Linked DNA regions of Homo sapiens. The protein of the gene in region 3 binds, or shares a complex with, the protein of the main gene of each other region. Each region holds a gene or a part of one and is shown on either strand. Other genes may lie near its edges.

The links.
Region 1: the proteins of OBSL1 (region 3) and MYOM1 are in contact, whole or in part, in a crystal structure (PDB 5FM5), measured with the Homo sapiens proteins. Residues at the interface, in NP_056126.1 of Homo sapiens: Pro243, Lys253, Phe255, Val257, Asn258, Gly260, Lys261, His262, Ala263, Lys264, Phe265, Arg266, Cys267, Tyr268, Val269, Met270, Gly271, Lys272, Pro273, Pro275, Trp279, Lys305, Tyr308, Tyr317, Cys319, Ala321, Arg322, Asn323, Ser324, Ala325; in NP_003794.3 of Homo sapiens: Arg616, Pro617, Ser618, Ala619, Pro620, Trp621, Thr622, Gly623, Gln624, Ile625, Ile626, Val627, Thr628, Glu629, Glu630, Glu631, Pro632.
Region 2: OBSL1 (region 3) and CCDC8 share a complex: the UniProt entries of both Homo sapiens proteins name them as parts of the 3M complex.

The regions. Positions count from the first base shown.
Region 1 is NC_000018.10:3,209,969-3,217,707, reverse strand, and holds part of MYOM1 (myomesin-1), read left to right. Parts: intron 1-2,456; coding exon of another isoform or gene 2,457-2,484; coding exon 2,485-2,774; intron 2,775-7,739. UniProt on the Homo sapiens protein: Major component of the vertebrate myofibrillar M band. Binds myosin, titin, and light meromyosin. This binding is dose dependent.
Region 2 is NC_000019.10:46,410,565-46,418,727, forward strand, and holds the start of CCDC8 (coiled-coil domain-containing protein 8), read right to left. Parts: upstream 3,001-8,163; 5' UTR 2,247-3,000; coding exon 630-2,246; 3' UTR 1-629. UniProt on the Homo sapiens protein: Core component of the 3M complex, a complex required to regulate microtubule dynamics and genome integrity. It is unclear how the 3M complex regulates microtubules, it could act by controlling the level of a microtubule stabilizer.
Region 3 is NC_000002.12:219,549,347-219,555,136, forward strand, and holds the end of OBSL1 (obscurin-like protein 1 isoform 1 precursor), read right to left. Parts: intron 5,395-5,790; coding exon 5,128-5,394; intron 4,341-5,127; coding exon 4,228-4,340; intron 3,679-4,227; coding exon 3,522-3,678; intron 3,352-3,521; coding exon 3,190-3,351; intron 2,871-3,189; coding exon 2,766-2,870; intron 2,453-2,765; coding exon 2,183-2,452; intron 1,940-2,182; coding exon of another isoform or gene 1,896-1,939; exon of another isoform or gene 1,523-1,895; coding exon of another isoform or gene 1,497-1,522; coding exon 1,489-1,496; coding exon of another isoform or gene 1,479-1,488; 3' UTR 1,382-1,478; downstream 1-1,381. Other genes in the region: TMEM198 (transmembrane protein 198), read left to right, coding at 1-8, 371-508. UniProt on the Homo sapiens protein: Core component of the 3M complex, a complex required to regulate microtubule dynamics and genome integrity. It is unclear how the 3M complex regulates microtubules, it could act by controlling the level of a microtubule stabilizer.

The DNA.
Region 1 (7,739 bases), on a different chromosome or scaffold from region 3:
CCTGTAATTTCCTTTTCTGTGTATAATGGTCCTCATCTGTTTTCTTTTAGGACTTTCTTTTCCGTGTACAATGGTTCTCACCTATTTTCTTGGCTTTCGATACCACCTATATGCTGTTGACTCCCAAATGTATATCTGCATCCTGGACCTCTCTCCTGCACTCCAGAGTCATGTATCCAGCTTCCCACTTAAAATGTCTCCTCTGGGAGGTCTAACAGGCATCTCAGATGTAGAGCATTGAAACCAATCTCCTGTTCTTCCACCCCAAACTGATACTTTCCCACATTCCTCCCCATCTCAGTTAATAGCAACTTGTCTTTCAATTGCTCAGGCAAAAACCTTGGAGTCATCTCTTTCTTTCACATCCTAATTCAGAACTTTCAGCAAATGCCATTGGTTCTAACTTCAAAAGCTGTGCAGAGCTTGACCACCTCTCACACTTTCGCTGCTACCCCTGTCACCTCTAGCCTGGACCATTGCAGTGGACTTTGTATTCTTTTGCCCGGGCTATCATAGCTAAGCGCCATGGACTGGGTGGCTTAAACAACAGAAACTTATTACCTTACAACTCTGGAGGCTGGAAGTCCAAGATCAAGGTGTCAGCTGGGTGGTTTCTTCTCAGGTCTCTTCTCGGCTCATGGATGGCTGTCTTCTCCCTGTGTCTCCACGTGGCCTTCCCTCTGTTATATACATATTTGGATCTTGGTTTTCTTTTCCTATAGAGACACCATCATATAGAATTACGGCCCATCCTAATGGCCTAATTTTAACTCAACTTCCTCTTTAAGGACCCTATCTCCAAATATGGTCACATGTTGAGGTACTGGAGGTTAGGGCTTCAACACAGGAATTTTGAGAGGATACAACTCAGCCCTTTCATAGGTCTTCTGGCTTTCACTCTCATCCCTCCACAGTCCATCTTCAGACATCGGCGAGAATGAGTCTCAGCTCAGAGTCTTCCAATGGCCTCTCAGCCCTTTCACAGTATTAGCTGAAGTCCTTACTGCTACCTACAGGACCCTACACTACTGGCCCTTCCACCAGGCACATAGCTCACCTCTTTGACATCATCTCCTATACCTCTCCCATCCCAGAACCCCTGCCAATCAGTGGTTCCTGGAGCACAATAGTCATGTTCATTCCTCAGTGCCTTTGCTCTGGTCTTCCTTCTGGAATACTCTTCCCCAGAAAGTCTCATGCTCAGATGTTACTGTCTAGAGAAGCCATCCCTGCTGAGGCTGTTGAAAATTGCATCCATCCCTCTTACCTGCTTTGTTTTTCTCTGGTTCTTGGCACATTAACCTATCTCATACTTGACTTACTTGTTTTCTCTATTGTCTTTCTCCTGCAGTAGACTGTACAGTTCTGTACAAGGTAATTAGAGCAGGCATTTTGTCTGTTTTGTTTACCACTGTATTTCTTTTTTGTTTTGTTTCATTGTGAGACAGAGTCTTTCTCTGTTGCCCAGTATGGAGTGCAGTGGCGCAACCTCGGCTCACTGCAAACTCCGCCTCTGAGTTCAAGTGATTCTCCTGCCTCAGCCACCGGAGTAGCTGGGACTACAGGTGCCCACCACCATGCCAGGCTAATTTTTGTATTTTTAGTAGAGATGGGGTTTCGCCATGTTGGCCGGGCTGGTCTTGAACTCCTGACCTCAAGTGATCCGCCTGCCTCGGCCTCCCAAAGTGCTGGGATTACAGGCGTGACCCACTGTGCCCGGCCTCACTACTGGATTTCATGGGCTGGATGGCGTCAGGCACACAGTAGGTGCTGCTAATTATTTGTTGAATGAACACCACATGACTCTCTATCCTTCCACATTCTCCCAAATGAAGTCCCAAATGAAGAATGAAATGGCAGAAAATTAGAAATATGTATTATGAAGAGTCTGAGGAAAGAGCACAATAGCCAGGGTAGAAAAACTTTGTTTTTCTAGGAAAACCTCCTAGATACAATTTTTTTTAAAAAAAGGTACAATGACAGGAGGGGCATATCTGGGCTATGAAGTGGAGAGTTTTTTGAATATCCAGTTATGTTAAACTTCATACCCTTTTTGGTTTACTCTTCGGAAAAGATAAGAATATTAATTTTTATTTTATTTTGTTTTTAGACAGTGTCTTGCTCTGTCACCCAAGCTGAGTGCAATGGTCAATCATAGCTCCCTGCAGCCTCGAAGTCTTGGGCTCAAGCAATCCTCCTGCCTCAGCCTCCGGAGTAGCTGGGACTACAGACACACACACCACACCCGGCTAATTTTTTCTTTTTGTAGAGATAGGGTCTCACTGTGTTGGCCAGGTTGATTTTGAGCTCCCGGCCTCGAGAGATCCTCGTTGGGATTTCAAGCATGAACCACCGCACCCAGCCAAGAGTATTGATTTTTACACATTGATTTAGATGACTTGGTCTATGGAATTTGTTCCTTAATAAGTCACTCAAAAAGTGTTGTTTTCCTTCAGGTGGCCCGGTTCCTTCAAGGGGCACAGGATGTCTTTGCCTTTTTATCAGAGGTGCCACCAGCACTATGATCTCAGCTACCGCAACAAGGACGTGCGCAGCACCGTGAGTCACTACCAGCGGGAGAAGAAACGCTCCGCCGTCTACACCCAGGGCTCCACGGCCTACAGCAGCCGCTCCTCCGCCGCGCACCGCCGGGAGTCCGAGGCCTTCCGTCGGGCGTCCGCCTCCTCCTCCCAGCAGCAGGCCTCGCAGCACGCCCTGAGCTCTGAAGTCAGTCGGAAGGCAGCCTCAGCCTACGATTATGGCTCCTCCCATGGGTATGTCGGACGCCCTCCTCCAACCTTCCAACCTCAGGAAGAGGCGTGTGCTCTGAGTAACCCTCCCAGTTACTTCTCGCTTTGTTTCGGTTCGGTTTTGGTTTTTTGAGACAGAGTTTCGCTCTTGTTGCCCAGGCTGGAGTGCAATGGCGTGATCTCGGCTCCCTGCAACCTCTGCTGCCTCCTGGGTTCAATCGATTCTCCTGCCTCCGCCTCCCGAGTAGCTGGGATTACAGGCGTGCACCACCACGCCCGGCTCATGTCGTGTTTTTAGTGGAGACAGGGTTTCACCATGTTGGCTAGGCTGGTTTTGAGCCCCTGACCTCAGGTGTTCCACCCGCCTGGGCCTCTCAAAGTGCTAGGATTACAGGCGTGAGCCACCGTGCCCAGCCTCTCCCAGTTACTTCTTAAATACGGCAGCCCTGCATTTCAACCAAGTGTGCAGACAGACCTTGTTTGGGAGACCCGGGACCCGTGCCTACCTATTTCCCTTTATTGTCTCTTTTAGCTTCACTAAGAGCCTGGTGTTCTCACGGGCGAGTCTTGCTTGTGTTGCCAATTTGCTATTTCTAAGAGCAGGCAAATTTTGCCACAGGTTACTTTAGCAGCAGCAGGGCGAGAAAAGATCATTTCAGTATTCACAGCGGGTTTCCTTGCGCTCAGAATGTTTCTGCCTAGATGAGAAGCTGATATATACAATTTAAAATTCACAGGGCACAGGAGACTGAACTACTGCGAAGATATATTCTATTAAATATTTTTTCAATATCTAATAGCAAATACTTAAAATTCGGAACTACTATTTATGCAGCAGATAATTTCTTTAGCTCGACCATTTGATAAAAACATGGCCCTATCTCAGTCAGTCTAAGAATAATAGGAACCAACCTGTATTCCGACAAAATTAGGTTTATTGACCCAATGCAATGAAGGAGACTAAACACTAGAGGAAAAAAGGTTATTTTAGGTTTCTAGGAAGAGTGGAGCTTAGACGCAGGTCTGGTCTGCAAAGTGAACCCAGGGTGCTATTTCTTTGGAAACAATAAAGTTAAGATAAATGTGGACTGTTGCATCCCCAAGCCCCTTATCTGGGACTTCTCACCAGAAGTGGGAATTGAGGTTGCTTCTCTGCTTCAATTAAGCAACTAAGATCCTGCAGGCAAGAGTGAGATGTTTTATTCTTACTGATATAATTTTAAACAGCAAGCTCACTGATTGTCTTTGATATTAGAGAAGAAAGTTTCTCAGTGAATCTATAGTCACTCAAAGAAGGACGTTACCATGACACTTTACAACAGCAACGTCCCTGGGAGAAATGTCATTTCCTGTTCACTTTGCAGTTGGCTTATCTGTGTCTGCTGTTTCAGCCTGATGAATGTTGGGCAGATATTTACTTTCTCAGTCCAAGGCAAGTTTTATTTTCTTCATATTCAGAATGAAATATTTCATGGAGATTAAAAAACACTTGCAAGATACACGTGACTTTTATTTAAAATCTATCTAGAGTCCACAGAAAAAAACTGCTGATCTTCAAAACATAGACATTTCTGGGCTATGTGGTCGATAACCACCTGCTGCCTCTTTTCCTCTTCTCCAAAGTACCTGGCATAGGTTGCATTTTTTGCTATAAACATAACATACTTTTCAGTCTTACAAAATTTAAGCCCACAAAATATCTGGTAGGGCAACTAGAAAAGCTGTTTTCTCTGGGAATCTAAAAAGTTATTGAGAAAATAATAGAGTGGTCGGTTTAACTAGAAGTGAGGCATGCTTCCAAAGGCAGAAATTCCGAAATCCCTGTTGGGTTTGAGCAGCACCTGATCTACAGCTATCATTTTATCAGTGATGGTGGCCTCCTGGGAGCTTCTGCTGGGTTGAGTAACAGAGCCAGACTCTGCTGGGGTTTACCTGGAGTGTATGATGGCAACACTCTGAAATTCCATTAAAATGGAACAGGATCACTTCGCAGTCTCAATTTCATAGGTCATATTCTGCCGTGGGATATTCATAAGGATCACACATTGGCTGCAGATAGGGAAATACTGTCACTGAGGTGAATTCATTTCTTTTAGCACTTGCCTCAGACGAACTGCTTCCAAATAAAAGCTGGGAGGAATTAATACCATATGTATATGACAGCCTCAATTTGTTTCCCTGAAAAACGTTCTGCAGATATGCTTAAGAACCTCATTTAGGAAAGCACATGTAATAGAGAAAGATTACATTTTAAATATCCATTTTCCTGGACTGTTTGTGCTAGGTTTATAGAAGATGGGCATTTTCATTATAAGGCAGTTGTCAATGTAACTCCTTGTGTACTTATTTCATTTCCCCAGTGCTGTAGAATCTAGAGTTTTATGAATTTGTATTTTTAAAGGATCTTTATTTTCTCAACTCTATTGCAAAATTTTATATTAAAATTATCTTAATTTTATACAAATCCTTCTTTTAGCCACATATGCAATCTTTATATTTATTCATAGTCTGATATATCATTAATAATTAAACCTTTGAGCAAATTTTATTGTGAAAACATTTGCTCTATATAATCCTCGGAAGACTTATCCATTTTGGCCATAAAGAGCCTTAGATAATAAACTTTCTCTAGGGAATGGAACTGTAATTATTTTTCTGTGTTCAAACTCATTACTTTTTCCTTCCTACTATGTATATATTTTTGTAGGTAGGTATTTATTATGGCTTGTTATGTTTGAACAACTTAAACTTTTTGGTAGAAGCATGCTGACCTAGAAACAAGAGGAGGGAAAATGCCAATATGTTTTCCTTTGAATAATTCAATGTGAAAGGCAAAGAAAGCCAACTCAATCCTGAAGGTATTTTAGTCTTTCTTTTTTTAGACCTAGAACACAGGTGCAGATAATATTTTTTGAACACTTCAAAGTCTTCATAATTCCTTTAGGTTGTATTTTAGCTTGCTCAAAATGAAGCAACTTTTTCCTGCTAAATGAAAGCATTCTCTTTGGATTGTGAACAGTGTTGTTGATTAAAACCCCTGGGGTTGGAAATGCATCTCTGTGGAGTGTAAGTGCTCGGCTTGGTCTATTTTTAGCTCTGCTTTGTAGTTAGATGTCCAGGGTTAAAGTGGAAACTATGGAGAGTTACATGTGCTCAGGGCTTGGCTGACCTTAGTGAGTCTTAGGAACAATGACTAGTTTACTGTCAGTGCGCTTGCAGTACAGATCAGTTACCAATTGTGTTCTGAGCCACGAGCTATAAAGTAAATTCTGGATGGCTTACTCTAAATGCCTTTGTTCTTGGTCACAGTGGGAAAAATAAAGAAAATAATTTAGGAAAACAAACTCTTAAAATGACAGATTACTGTTTCATGCTAATAATAACAAAATATCATCAGGATTAAAGGAGCAGTATTACTTATGACCATGTTGCAACCATTAGGCAAGGGTTCTTAACCTCTGTCCATGAATGGTTTCAGTAGAGTCTTGGATGATCTGAAATTATATGCAAAATTATGCACAGATGAGAATTTTTCTGGAGAGAGGGACTGTAGTTTTCATCGGATTTTCAAGGAGCTCCGTGACTCAACAAAGGTCAGAACCATTGCTCTAGAAAGTCTAAAAATGAATAACAGAGAGTCTAGTGTATGACCTGAGGACCTCTTTCCTAATGCCAATGTTATAAGGACTTGGGATGAAATAAGGCAGATGTTTACAGAAAAGGTGGTATTATGGAAAGCAGGGACCTTCCATTCTTGCAAGTAAGCTGGATCATACATTAGGATGAAAATAATTTAAAAAGAATGTTTTCTTATTCTTCTAAGTAGAGTGAATAACTTACAAGAATGAATAGCTTACAAAAACCAGAGAACAGCACAGCAGGTTTCTTAGGTTGTGGGATGATTTAGAGTTGTTCCTCAACCTTCCATGGTGACAGTAGACATTTAGTTGTCTTATTCTAAACAGATTAAAATTCAGCCTATATGACGTAATTCAGCATTGCATTCTCTATACCACTGAGTCTTTACAACAACCCTGAGCAGTAGAAATTTTTATCTTCATTTTATAAATGAGAAAATTGGAAACCAAGGAGATTAAATGACTTTTCTTCATTACACTAGAAAGTAGCAGAGTAGTTATTTGAACCCTCGTCATACCCAGGTCCCCACCCTTTCCACGGGCACCCAATGCCAGTTACAGTCAGCAACTCCCCTTGATCATACACCACCGGGTTTTCCTTGAAGCATCAATATGTAGTTTTTGCATTGTGCTTCCTTTGATTTAGCCTTCTTCTAGAGAAGCTATTGAATACCAAAATAACCAAGATTTACAGCAGGGAACAGCAGATGGAAGGACACAAATTCTAACAAAGAAAACCCAAGGAGTGTCCATGAATGCCAAGCCTGGGACCTTACAGACACTTTAACCCACTATTTAGAATCAGACATAGATATTTGCAAAGGACTCTAAGAGAGCAGTTTGGGGATGAAAACACTGAGGCTTGAGTGACTTTCCCTGGGCACCCTAACTTTAAACCATGCCCCTCACCTACCCCTATGTCACATTGATCAACCACCCCCACTCCCACGTGTCACCCAGATTATAACCTCTTGAAACTACTAGAGTTGGTGAAGACCACACTAACATTCAAAGCTGTTATAATTCAGACAAAAGATACCAATGCTAAAAATAGAGACGACCAAACACAGCAGAGAGTGCAGAGAACTTGAAAGCTTGTTCCATCTCCTACCCCAATATCCTTTCAAAATGTGTTACCAAAGAAATCTGCCTTGTGGACACTTTTGTGTCCTAACCTCAGCTATGAGCTGTAGATTCATGTCATTTTCTACATATCTATTTCTGTAAAATGAGGAAAATGACTGTCCCTCATGTTGTGAGGTCGAAAAGAGATAATCATGTAAGATGTTGAGTGTGGTGGCTGGCACAGGGGGAACACCCAGTGAGGTTTAGGCATTATGAGTCATTCATT
Region 2 (8,163 bases), on a different chromosome or scaffold from region 3:
CCCCAGAGCATTCGTCAGTTGTCAAGTCCAAAGCTAAGAAATCAGTTCATAAATGTTTTTTGATTTGCATGTTGGCTCAACTCTTTTTAAGTCCAAGGAGGCAGTCCACATTAAGTGTGCAGGCAAAAAAGAGATGGAAAAAGGAGTCAGTTTCTCCCCTGCCCTCCCTCTCTCCCTTTATCAAGCTGAGCACCTTGAGTTGCATTTGAGGAAATGAAAACTATAGGTGACGCAACCCCATTGTGTCGAATTCTTTCTTTACATTTTTTGGGTTGCTACAAGGAATCAGTATTTTTTTTTTTTAATCAGATGGTGTGTGTGGTGGCTCACATCTGTAATCCCAGCATTTTGGGAGGCCGAGGCAGGAGGATCACTTGAGGCCAGAAGTTTGAGGCTGCAGTGAGTTATGATCATGCCACTGCACTCCAGCCTGGGCAACAGAGTGAGACCCTGTCTCTAAAAAATTTAAAAAAAAATCAAAGCATGAACAAAACTTTAACAAGAGAATAAAGAGGGTTGTTAGGTGGAGACGTGGCCAGCACTCCACCTCCACTTTGAAGTTCAGAGGCAGAGCATCTCTCCCTCCCACACTTGGAGGGAGGGCCCGTGGGCTGTCTCTAGCCCTCACCTCACAGCTGGTCTTCTTGCTCTCCCTGCTCAGCTTCTGCTCTGGCCTCGGCCCTCAGCACCCTGAGGTTCCTGGCCTCTCCTGCCCTGGGGACTCTCTTGGGCAGGGTTGGCAACCGGGGAGTGTGCCAGAAGGCTCTCCGGCGCTTGCAAAACCACGAAAAGCGTCCAGGGGTCTGGAACCTCACTGTCTTGACCTGTTTCCGGGCCCTGGCTCCTGGAGCTGTTCCTGTGGTCCCTTGGGCAGCTGAGACTTCAGCTTCCTGGATACCTGGGGCCCCTGCCCTCTGATTATGTGCAGCCTCTGCCCTCTGGCCAGCCCGGGCCTGTGCCCTCTGATTATCTGCACCCTGGACAGCTGGGGCCCTTTCCCTCTGGTCATGTACGGCCTCTTCCCTTTGATTATCTGTAACCTCTGACCCCTGGTCAGCTGGGGCCTCCGCCCTCTGATTATCTGCAGCCTCTTCCCTGTGGTTATCTGTGCCCTGTGACCTCTGGTCAGCTGGGGCCTCTGCCCTCTGATTATCTGCAGCCTCTTCCCTCTGGTTATCTGCAGCCTCTGCCCCCTCCTCAGCTGGGGCCCCTGCCCTCTGATTATCTGCAGCCTCTTCCCTCTGATTATCTGCAGCCTCTGCCCCCTGGTCAGCTGGGGCCCCTGCCCTCTGATTACCTGCAGCCCCTTCCCGCTGGTCAGCTATGGCCTCTTCCCTTTGACTATCTGCAGCCTCTCCCCCCTGATCAGCCTCGATGTCTGCCCCCTGACCTGTGGGTGCTGTCTGCTCCTTCCTGCGGCGCCGAAAGGAGGCCCAGTTGATCTTGGGCCTCCATCGCCTAGGGGAAGCCTGGGGCACACAAACATCTCCCGCGTTTCCCAAGCGATCCCCCGGGCTGGTGCCCTCTGGCGCCGATGATACCCCTGCGCTCTCCACTGCGGTGGAGGCCAGCCGGGCCTCGCCCACCCCGGGGCCCGCCCTCGGCGCCCAACCCTTCACCCTCCGCTTCAGCTTCCCCCAGGACACCTGGCTGACATACTCCCGCCACCTGTCCGCTTTGGACAGCTGAGGCCCCAGGTTGTCCTCAAACATGGGCACTGGCAGGTTGACGCGGCGGCGGGCAGGCGGCGCGCTGGGCTGCTTCTCCTGTCGCCGGAGGAAGGCCTCGACCAGTTCCTCATCATCCTCACTCTCCAGGTCGCTTCCCAGGAACTTGCTGCCCAGGTAGCTGACGGGCATTTTGCGCACCTTCTTGCCCCGCCGCGGGCCCTGGCGGCTCTTGTCTCTGGAGGTCTCGAAGTCGCTGAACTCGCTGTCGCTGGCGTTGCTGCTGTCGTACGTGCCCACGACCAGCCGGGGCGGAGGAGTCACCATCTGCTGCACTCTCCTCCTCACTCGGGGCTCCTTGGGCTTTTTGGGGGGCTGGGGCGGGTGCGGGGTGCTCTTCTCCATGATGCGGGCCACGTCCTCCAGGGTGCGGCCCTCTTCTTCCAGGAACTGGGTCAGCCGCTCCCGAAATTCTGCTTCCTTGGTGGCGGGCTTAGAGATGACTCTCCAGACGCCCCCAGCCAGCCTGACCTCCCGGGGGATGAGCAAATAGTCGACGTCCTCCCCGATCTGCAGCATCCCCACCGTGGAGTCCTCCTCCTTGCGGAACACCTTGCCGATCTTCTTAAATGTCCCCACGGGCTTTAGGGCTTCCACGAGGACGTCCAAATCCACATCTTTGCAGACATCGGGGACGCTCCAAAGAATGAGGCAGTCGGGGGACGGCAGGAAGCCCCAGGGGAACCAGCCCCCCACGTGGCTTTTCTCGAGAGTCTTTAAGATCTCCAGGGTGATATCTGGGGTGAGGGGGCAATGAGCCCCAACAAACTACTGTAGCCCTTAGTCTTGAGGGAGGGACTGGATGGGGGGAGTTCCAGCAACGCTGACCGGAGAGTCTCACCTCCCTAGCCAGGGACGAGCCAAACGCCTCCAATCTCTTCGCCTGCAACAAGTACAGTCTTGACCAAGTCCGGCTCCCCCACCAAGGACTTGGGGGAATCAATTTCCAGGATGCCTACGTGAGCCGGGGGCGAGGTCAGTCCCAAGGCTCAAGGCCCACTCCAAGCTGGAAACGTGGTGTCCCAGCTCCAAGTTGGGGCGCGCGGGCTGCCAGCGACTCTTCCTGCCCCAGGCCCCAGGGACGCGGCTGGAACTTGGGACAGGACTTCGCAGACAAAGACGGTCCAGTCGAAGCTATTCAATATGGCCGAGGCGCTGGGAGGCCCCAGCCCGGGCCTCCAGTAGGGTCCCCCGCCCCCAGGCAGGCCGCCACCCAGCTCCAGGCTGACCTTGACGCGCCGCAGCCTGCCAGCCCGCGCGCTTAGAGCTCTGCACCGTGGAGCGCGCGGGCAGGAAGTTCCTCCTCGCCCTCCGCCAGAATGAGGCCCACCTTCCCCCGTCTCATCTTACACTCCCAGACTCTGGAAGACTGACAGGGGGGCTGTCCACTCCCTTCGGGGCGGCCTCCTTCCCCTCCCCCACAGGGGTGTGGCCGCGCCCCGGGCCTAGCTGGGCCCATTGCTTCCCAGCGAAGCGGCAGTGGCCCACGTCAGCACCTTTCCTGAAAGGCAGCGGTTCCCAAACCTGCCATCCGAAATGTGCAAGTTTCCAGCCAAGTCCGGGAGGTGGGTGTGCTAGTGGATTCTACTTTTTGAGAGCCACTGGCACCACAGATTAGCATTTTAAATTCACGCGACTATCGGTACCCGTACACCTATATGCGTGGGTAGAGAAATGGGTACCTGACTGCAACAGTCCCACTGTGGCGCTTGGCAGGTCAGGGCTCAATACATATTTTTGAGGGGATGAATAAACCCAAATGTTCATGGCCAGGCGCGGTGGCTCATGCCTGTAATGCCAGCACTTTGGGAGGCCCAGGTGGGTGGAACACTTGAGGCCAGGAGTTCGAGACCAGCCTGCCCAACATGGTGAAACCCTCGTCTCTACCCCGGGTGTGGTGGTGCGCGTGCGTAGTCCCAAGCTACGCGAGAGGCTGAGGCAGGAGAATGGCGTGAACCTGGGAGGTGGAGGTTGCAGAGATCGCGCCACTGCACTCCGGCCTGCGCAACAGAGGGAGACTGTCTCAAAAAAACAAAAGTGCAAAAAAACCCCTACAAATAAACAACAACAAAAAACCCTAAAAGTTCACGAGTAGAGACTGCCTCTATTTTATGGTAGTATCTTACAGTGAAATATTTTGCAACTTCGAAAAAAGAATGAGATGGCTAAGGATAGGCACGGTTTATGAGGCGCTTCCTATGTAGTAGGCACCATTCCCAGTGCTTTCTATGAATGAACTCAGGAAATCCTTGCTATAACAGGAGACTGGTAGCATGAGTACAATTCCCATTAGACAGCTGAGGAAACTGAGGCCCAAGGACATAAAACCACACTCTCAAGGTCACAGCCATGGGGAGTGGTTGAGTTTGGATTTGAATCCAGAATAGTCTGCCTTTTGTGTCGACCAAAGAGTCAAGATGGCCAGGCGCGGTGGCTCACGCCTGTAATCCCAGCCCTTTGGGAGGCTGAGGCGGGCAGATCACGAGGTCAGGAGATCAAGACAAGACCATCCTGGCTAACGCGGTGAAACCCTGTCTCTACTAAAAATGCAAAAAAATTAGCCGCGCGTGGTGGTACGTGCCTGTAGTCCCAGCTACTCGGGAGGCTGAGGCAGAAGAATCTCTTGAACCCGGGAGGCGGAGGTTGCAGTGAGCCGCGATCGCACCACTGCACTCCAGCCTGGACGACAGAGCAAGACTCCGTCTCAAAAAAAAAAAAAGAAAGAAAGAAAGAAAAAAAAGAATCAAGATGTGAACCAATGCTAGTCGCATTCGGCCGGGAGCTCGGTTCTTGAGACGCGAGTCTACCGAAGCTCCCGCCAGTTGAGAGGCGAGTCTGCCGAAGCTCCCGGCCGAAAAAGCCAAATCCTTCCTTAACCCAGTGTCTGAGGGGTTTTGTCCGTGGCTCCTCCTGCTACAGGACATGCGACTAGCATTGGTCCACATCTTTGGAACCAGGCATCCAGAGACATGTTGAATAGGCCTCGTTGTTAGGAACCCTCAGAGGTACATGGTAAGGCCAGTGCCATCAATCATCTTTTTACAGACGGTGAAACTGAGGCTGGTCTGAAGTTGCACAGCTCTGAGTGGTGGATCTAATATAATATTAGAACCAGATCTTGGGCACTAGCATTTAAAACACTAGCTGACGCTAAAGACACAGCTAATCCCCTTCTCCTAAATGTGTTGCACCATTTAACCACTTAGCAGCCACAATACTTGCAGCCACTCTTGCCTGGATGTGTACAAAGCCCCCTCACTGGGCTTCCCGCCTCCCCATCACTGCTTGCAATCCAGGCCCCATCCAGAAGCTGGGGGCATCTTTTAAAAACTTAGGTCCGATCTGTCTCTACTCTTTTGAAAATTCTCCATCTCAGGCTGGGCGCCGTGGCTCACGCCTTTAATCCAGCACTTTGGGAGGCTGAGGCGGGCGGATCACCTGAGGTCCGGAGTTTGAGACCAGCCTGGTCAACATGGCAAAACCCCATCTCTACTAAAAAATACAAAAATTGCCGGGCGCGGTGGCTCACGCTTGTAATCCCAGCATTTTGGGAGGCTGAAGCGGGTGGATCACCTGAGGTCAGAAGTTTGAGACCAGCCTGGCCAACATGGTGAAACCCCGCCTCTACTAAAACTACAAAACTAGCCTGTCTTGGTGGCGCATGCCTGTAATCCCAGCTACTCCGGAGGCTCAGGCAGGAGAATCGTTTGAATCCGGGATTCAGAGGTTGCAGTGAGCTGAGACCGTGCCATTGCACTCCAGCCTGGGCAACAAGAGCGAAACTCCGTCTCAAAAACAAACAAACAAAAAAAAGAAACGAACAAAAATATAAGAATTAGCCGGGCATGGTGACACATGCCTGTAATCCCAGCTACTGGGGAGGCTGAGGCAGAAGAATCGCTTGAACTGGGAGGCGGAGGTTGCAGTGAGCCAAGATCGCGCCACTGCCCTCCACCTTGGGCGACAGAGCGAGACTCCGTCTCAAATAAATAAATAAATGTGATCTTATTTAACTCATAAAGGAACCAGGCAAATTTTTAAAGAGGGAACGGAGGAAAAAGAGACGGGCCAGAGGGAAAGAAAAGATGTGGGGGCTTAGGGGACGTTAAGGTCTCAGCGAGCGGCCTGTTCACAATTACCGGCTTATTCAGGTTGTTTTTCTCTTGCAGAGCCAGGTCGTTGGGCTTCGCTGGATTTTTCTCCTCTTTCTCCCTGGCTCAGTCCCAGCCGCCGCGCTCAGCCCCCGGGCCTCCCGCGGCCCCGCCCCTCGCCTCCCCCTTCGCACAGTTTGTGGCCTCCGCAGTCCGGCGGTCTCCATGGCAACCACGGGACGCGCTCCTCCGCGCGGATCAAAACTAAGCGGGTGGGGCGGAGGCGGAGGCGAGGCTGCAGGGAGATGGTGGGGGTGGGGGCGCCACGGAGGACGAGGGCAGGAGCTCCTCTTTTCTGCCCCTGGTGCCTCCCTTAGGCCTCATCCCCAAAGCCAGCTTCCCTGAAAAGCTGTTTGTAGAAACCAAAAAATGAAAAATCCTAAGGACACCTAGGTTTCAGGAATGCTGATTAAAGAATCGCAAGTCTGAGGGCTCATGACAGTGCCTTCCAAGTGGTGACCTCGCAGATGAGACGTTTGGGTTTTGTAGTCATAAAAGGGCTTTCGTTTTGTTTGTTTGTTTTGTTTTTTGTTTGTTTTTCTTTTTTTATTTGGTGGGGGAGCAGGGAGCGGCGCAAGGAGGATAATCTAAGAAATGAAAATCCCAAATGTTCCATATTTTTGCAAAAATCGTCAACCTCCGGCCGGGGGCGGTGACTCATGCCTGTAATCCCAGCACTTTGGGAAGCCAAGGCAGGAGGATCGCTTGAGCCCAGGAATTGGAGACCAGCCTGGGCAACATAGCGAGACTCCGGTCTCCACAAAAAATTTAAAAATTAGCCGAATATTATGGTGTGCGCCTGTGGTCTGAGCTACTCGGGAGACTGAGGTGGGCCTATCGCTTGAGCCCGGGAGGTCAGGGCTGCAGGAAGCGGAGATCGCCCATCTGCACGCCAGCCTGGGCAACAGAGCGAGACTCCATCTCAAAAAAAAAAAAAATTGCCAGCCCCTGAACGGTTCAGCTGTGGGTGTTTTTAATTGCACAGATCTCTGGCAGGTGAGACCCTTCTCCAGCCATCACAGAATAAAATAATAAAAACGAGAACTGTAGCCTCACTTTTGCATTTGTTTAAAATAAATGGAAAGTTGGAAAAGAATGGGGAAGAGAAACAAAACACGGCTGAAATCCCTCTACCCAGCTACATTTTGTTGCCATTTAAAAAAAAAATGGGACACGCGGGCCAGGGGCAGTGGCTCAAGCTTGTAATCCAAGCAATTTGGGAGGCCTACGCGGGCGATCGCCTGAAGTCAGGAGTTCGAGACCAGCCTGGCCAATATGATGAAACCCCACCGTCTCTACTAAAAGTACAAAAATTAGCTGGGCACGATGGCAGGCGCCCGTAATCTCAGCTACTAGGGAGGCTGAGGCAGGAGAATCGCTTGAACCTGGGAGGCACAGGTTGCAGTGAGCTGAGGTGGTGCCACTGTACTCCAGCTTGGGCAACAGAGTAACACCCTGTCTCAAAAAAGGATACACGGTCAGAAAAAGCAAAAGTTACAGAAAGGTAAATTTTTTTCAAAAAAGGATTCTTCTCCCCAAACCCCACCTTCCAGCCTCTCCCCAAAAAGTAACCAGTTAAATATCTCTGTATTTTTCCAGAGAAAAAATGCTTGCATTAGTGTATGTGTTAATTTTATTTTATTTTATTAATTTATTTTTTTTTTTTTGAGACGGAGTTTTGCTCTTATTGCCCAGGCTAGAGTGCAATGGCGCGATCTCCGACTCACCACAACCTCCACCTCCCGCGTTCAAGCAATTCTCCCGCCTCAGCCTCCAGAGCAGCTGGGATTACAGGCCAACCCACCCAGCTAATTTTGTATTTTTAGTAGAGACGGGATGTCTCCATGTTGATCAGGGTGGTCTCGATCTCGAACCTCAGGTGATCCACCCACCTTGGCCTCCCAAAGTGCTGGGATTACAGGCGTGAGCCACTTCACCTGGCTTTTTTTTTTATGTTAATTTTAGAATTTATCTCACAGAGATTTTTTTCCCCCATCATCCTAAATTATTTTCATCACAGCACTTACCACTTTCTGTTTTTGTTTTTTTTTTTCTTTGAGACAGGGTCTCACTCTGTCACCCAGGCTGAAGTGCAGTGGCATGATCATGGCTCACTGTAACCTCGAAATCCTGGGCTCAAGCAATCCTCCCACCTCAGCCTTCTGAGTGTCTGGGGCTACAGGTGTGTGCCACCATGCCTGGCTATTTTTAAAAATTTTTTGTAGAGAGGTATTCTCATTATGTTGCCCAGACCGGTCTTGAACTCCTGGCCTCAACTGATGCTC
Region 3 (5,790 bases):
TCTCCCCGGTGAGCTCCCTGAGCCCATCCAGCCAGAATGAGAAGGAAGTGTGGAAACTCTTTCCAAACAGGACTGGGCTTTCCCCACGGGCTGGTTGCTATCTAGAAGGCCTGTTTGTCCATGAACTGTTTGTCCATGCATCGGAGCCCATGCACCAGGGGCTTGGCGGGTCCAGCTGGTGGGGGAATTGGGGGAAAGGTTCCTGAGTATGGGTTTTAAGTGGGATATGGTATGTGGTGGGGTCTCAGGGCTGTGGACTCTGGGTCTATGGCAGTCTATAGAAGTGTCAGGCTTGTGGGAATTCAGGAAGAGGTGGCTTTTAGGGCAGGATTCTGCGGTGGGACTCACACCTATGTTTGCTCCCCCACAGAGCTATATCCAGAGCTTCCGAGACCGGCAGACCGGGAGCTCCCTGAGCTCCTTCATGGCCTCACCCACAGATGCGGACTATGAGTATGGGTCCCGGGGACCTCTGACAGCCTGCTCAGGCCCCCCAGTGCGGGTATAGCCATATCTGTCTGTCTAGACTCTGCAGTCACCAGCTCTGCCAGCTCGAGGAGGCCTGCTAGGCTGCCACTCAGCCTCCTGGCTTTGGCTGTCCCTCTCCCCAGCCTGGAGAGGGCTGGCCTGGTCACTAGAAGGGAGGATTGTCTCAGGCGAGTCTTGGCCTGAGAGGAAAGCCCCCTCCCAAGCTCCCAAGAGGCTCCTGAGGAACTCGGGGTGTGAACCCCATTGGGGTGTGCTCAGGGTTGTGAGTGTGTTGCCCGTGTGTCTGTGTGTATGTGTGTGGGGGTGGGCAGGCTTGGAGGGGACGCTGGGACCCTTGCCTTAGATTTCTGACTGGTAGGGTTTCTCCAGGCTCAGCCCCACCTCTTCACTCCCTGCCAAGGTCCCATGGGCCACCTCCTGCATGTCTCCGCGGAGGGGCTACCTTCCTTCCCATCGCCCTGCCTCGCAGCCAGACTCATCTAAGGGTTCTTGTCCTTGTCTATGGGGCAAACTGTAGCATCCCTCACCCTGGTCCCCTGGCCTCTGTAAAGCCACCAGCCTGAGGGCAGTGGCAGGAGATGGGGGTGGGGGGGTGCTGCTCTGGGCTGGGTTGGGAAGGGAGTTGGGGAGGGGTTTAAATGCACGGTGCATGTCTGGTGTCTGTCATGCCAACCTAGACACCTCATGCTTCTGTCTCCCCCACCCCACTCTGTTTTACATCTTTTATAAATGTGCCAAACTGTGTGGCCTCTGCCAGGAATGGTGGTCTTTGGTGGCTGGCACTTTCATGGGCCAGGTACAAGCACTACAGCCCTCGGTCCCCAGTGTCGCTCACTGCACAGGGGCTCCAGGCAAGGTCTGCCCCCCCACATCACTCAGAGAGGCAAGGAAATGAGCTGTAGCACTTTTATTGTTCCTTGTCTCTCTACCCCTGCCCAGGGTAAGGGCAAACGCCTTCCAAGCTGTCCAAGGGCACCCGCCTGGCCTGGTTAGGTTCTCCTAGTTGCCTGCAGAGGAATGACTCCACATGGGGCTGGGGAGAGAAGGGGGTACCACCTTCCTCTCCCCTGGCAGAGCCTGGACACCAGTACACAAAGAGCTGGGCCCCCAGGTTCTGCCCTACCCTTTCTGGGCCTTGGTTAGGGCTGTCTTGGCGGCAGGAAGGTGGGGGTCAGCTAGGGGTGGGGCACAGCGCGGCACCTGAAGGGAATGCTGGGATTTGGGATAGAAGGTGGGATGTCTCTTATGGGGAAGAGGAAAGAAAGAGGCTTCTGCCAAGGCTGACATGGAACTTGCTGAGATGGGCAGAGGCAAGCTGGGCAGAGGGCAGGAAGGAGGAGGGACAGGCTGGAGGAAGGCAGTGTTGGTGAAGTGGGGAGGAAAGGAACTGGTAGAAACAGGGCTGTTCAAGAGAGACAAACATGGTCCAGTGGCAGGAGAGAGGAGAAGCCTGGCAAGAAGGGGCGTAGAAAGGTGGGAACAGCTGACCAGGAGCAGCTGATCTGAGCCAAGCAGTTCCAGGGCTTTCCAGCCCTGGGTGTGCTCTACCCCTCCCCTCCCCCATCCCCACCTCCTACGTATCCCAGGACCCGTTGCCACCCCAAGTTCTGGAAAGCCTCCCATAGGTGTGGCTTAACCCATCAGCTCCCAGGCGCCCTCACCCTCCTGCCGCTGCCCAGTTGGCTTTACTCACCCTCTACCAGCAGCCGTGTGTGGGTGCTGTCCTGGCCGGCCTGGCAGCAGTAAGTGCCTTGGTCCTCAGGTCGAACGTCATGGATGACCAGGCTGTGGGTGGGGCCGTGGCTGCGCATCTCATACTTATCTCCCGGGCACAGCTCGGCCCCCTCCCGCAGCCAGCACACGTGGCCCCCCGAGCGGGACACAGTCACCTCCAGCACCGCCCGGCGGCCCACCAGAACGGTCTTCTCGCGAGGGGGGTGGCGGCACATCTGGAGAGGCAATGCTGGGGGTAGGGGGCGGGGGCTTAAGTTAATAGGGACACGCATGGCCCCCAGGAGGAGAGATGCATCTTCCCTCCCTGAAGTCTCCACTCCTGGCCTTAGCCCTCTATGCCACCAGTCCGTTCCCTTGCACCTCAGACCCAAAGTCTCCTCTTGCCGGGGAAACGCGCTGCCCTCTGTGACCCGGCCCAGGAGAGCCCCTCGGGGGGAAGGGAAGAGAGAGGCAGCGTTCTTGGGGCCAGCCCCAAGTCCGTCAGTCCCATGGCAGGAGAGACAGGATGTACACTCTCTGTCGCTCCCACCCCAGGTGCTTACCCTCCACTTCCAGTAGAGCCAGGGACTGGGCGGGCCCCGCCTGGAAGCGGACTTCACCGGCGTCCTCGGCGCGCAGCTCGCTAAGCACCAGAATGTGTTTCTTCCCTGGGGGTGAGGGGGTCGCTAGCGAGGCCGGAGCCACCTCTGAGGAGCGTTGGGGACGAAGGTGGGGGCCCAGCAGGCCCCTGGGTCGGTTCGGACGCCGTTAGTGTATGCTAGGGTGGGCGGAACAGGGATGCGGAGCGGGAAGCCTAGAGGTCCGGGACTAGGGGCTGGGGGCGGGGGAAAGAACAGGGACGAGGCTCACAGGGCCGTGGGGCGGGGCCCGTCGGAGCCAGGGGCGGGGCTTGTCCCGGTGGGGCGGGATCTGTTCGAGCCTGGGCGGGGCAGCGAGGGGCCCGAAAGGGTAACCAGGCGGGCAGACCTTCCTGTCGGATGCGGACGCGGGCTCCGGGTCTCAGCGGGCGGCCTCCGAGCTCCCAGCGCCCCGTGGTCTCGACCTCCGACACGGTGCACTCGAACGTAGCGCCGTCGCCTTCGCGGGCGCTCACCGACCGCAGCTCGGAGAGTACCGCCACAGTACGCTCTGGGGCGGAGCCCGGGGCGTGAGCGGGGCGGGGCAGAGGGCAGTTACCGGTCACGCCCCCTCCACGCCCCCTTTCTAGAAGCACGCGCGGTCATCAGGGTCCGGGGAAGACAGCTCCGCAAGTCTCGCGCCCAAAGCAGTGCCCAGCCTCCACATCACCCCGTACCCACCGCGCACGGTCAGGCGGACCGGTCCGGCGCGGGCCGTCCCCACCGCGCAGCTGTAGGTCCCGGCGTCCGAGGGGCCGCAGCGTCGCAGCTGGAGAAGGCGGCGCGTGCCGAGGGCCTGGAGCCGGAGCCGCGGGCTAGGCGTAAGCGCGTTCCCGTCCTAGGGGCGGGAGTTGCAGAGGGTCGGGGCGAGCCCGGCTGGGCACAGGCGACCCCGGCCCTGGCAGGCGGCGCACCCTTTGTTGATGCCAAGCGGTCTCGAGGCGCGTTTATGCGTGTCTCGTGTTCCCAGGCTGGGGTCGGACTGTCCCCAAGCCTTTGGGGTCGTGCCAGGAGCCTCTTTGAAAAAGCGTCACCCTTTGGGGACCTTAGGGCCGCCAAGGCACTCGGGAAGCCCAGAGCCAGGTATCGATCACAGGGGACATGGGCACGGATTCTGGAGTTAGGCAAACCTGGATTCGAATATGGGCTCTACCTGTTGTCTGCCCTTGGGTAGGTAATTTTTCCCACTGAGCATCAGTTTCCTGATAGGTATTACAGTGACAAGACCTACCTCCTAGAGTTGTCCTTGGAGTAAGGGATTAAATATAATGCAAATCTTAGCACAGTGCCAGGCACATCCGCTCAAGGAATATTAGCTGTTTCTGTCTGGGGCATTATTATCGTTGGTGTTACACTGAAGTGGGCTTGGCTGGGGCTGGGATCTGACCTTCTCCCAGGTAACATCAGCCAAAGCTTGGGAAAGCTCGCACTCGAACGTAGCTGTGTCGCCCTCGGTCACCTCTAGGTCGTGTGGCCCCCGCACGATGGTCACTGGGACCTCTGGGGGTGGGAGAGGGAGGACAGTGCAGAGGGAGCAGGATGGGGACCCATCTTGCAGGGACAAGGAGGACATACACTTGGGCACAACAGGCAGTAGAGGACACTAGCGAGTGGGGTTCGAGCTGGGACAAGTGGTCCAAGAAGGATCTGTCAGTGGTGGGGGTGGGGGGGATGTAGGTGGGCAGGGCCACAGGGCCAATGGGTTAGGAGTGGCCAACTGGGAGTCACACTTTAAGGTGGTCAGTGGGGGAGAAGCTGGGGGCCAGAGGGCAATGGGGAAACAAGCAGAGATGCCAGTGGAGTGGTCAGTGGGAACATCCTGGGACTGGAAGTAAAAATGGGGGACACTCAAGCAGACTTGCTAGTGATGTCGCCCGTAGGCAGTCAGTGGATTCAAGGGACTGGAGTGGTCACGGGGCCCACACTTAGGCGGGCAGAGGGAGCCACGGCAGACAGTGTAGCCAGTAGGGTCACAGTTAGAGTGGTCAGTGGGGTGGTGTGCAGGCGGGCAGACAGCAGTGACCACAATGGCAAAGGCATGCTCTTGGTAGCAGAGTCAGTGGTTGGCTGAGCCTTGGGCAGTCAGGGGCCACACCCAGGCAGAGGACTCTGGGGCCACACAGGGCCTATGAGTCAGGGGGATCACACTCTGGCAGGGATGTCAATGAGGGCCACACTGAGACAGGCATGGTCAGTGGGGGTCACACGAGTTGGGGGTCAGTATTCATGCCTGGGGTAAGTAGGGCCACACAGGTCAGCAGGCAGGCTGTGGTCCTGGAGGCCACACCTCTCACAATGAGTCTGGCTGCGCAGCGCAGGGAATCCGCTGTGAAGGAGACACAGCCTGAGTCGGCCAGGCCCAGGCCATTGAGTACCAGTCGGTGACGGTGGCCGTCCGAGTGGATGTGACACTTGGGTCCTGGATACAGCTGTACTCCACCCCGGGCCCACTCCCCGGTCACACCTTCCTGGGACAGCTCCAGCTGGAAGGTGGCACTGCCCCCCTCACTGATGGTCACGTCCTCCAGAGGCCGCAGCACCCTCAGCTGCCTCGCTGGCCGGGGGAGATGGAGAGAGGGAGGATGAGGCCTCCAGCTCTGGGCAGGGGTTGCAGTCAATCCTCATCCCTTGGCCCTGCCTACACCCCTGAACACCCAACCTAAGGTCCTGACCAAAAAAGTTCGGAACCAGGGTGCAGGAAGAAAGGAGCACGGTGGACAGATTTGGCGGGGGGAGGGCTGTATCAGGGTTAGGAGATGAGGGCACAGGAAGGGGGAGAAGTGTGGTTAGGGGGTCGTGGAGTCTGGGTGAGGGGTGCTGTGACACTTGAAGGAGCACGGAATTTGGAGTCAGACACACTAGGAATGGAACCTCGCTCTACCACATAGTTTGTGTGCTATGTGATCTTTGGCAAATGGCCTGACCTCTCTGGACCCCAGTTGCCCCAGCT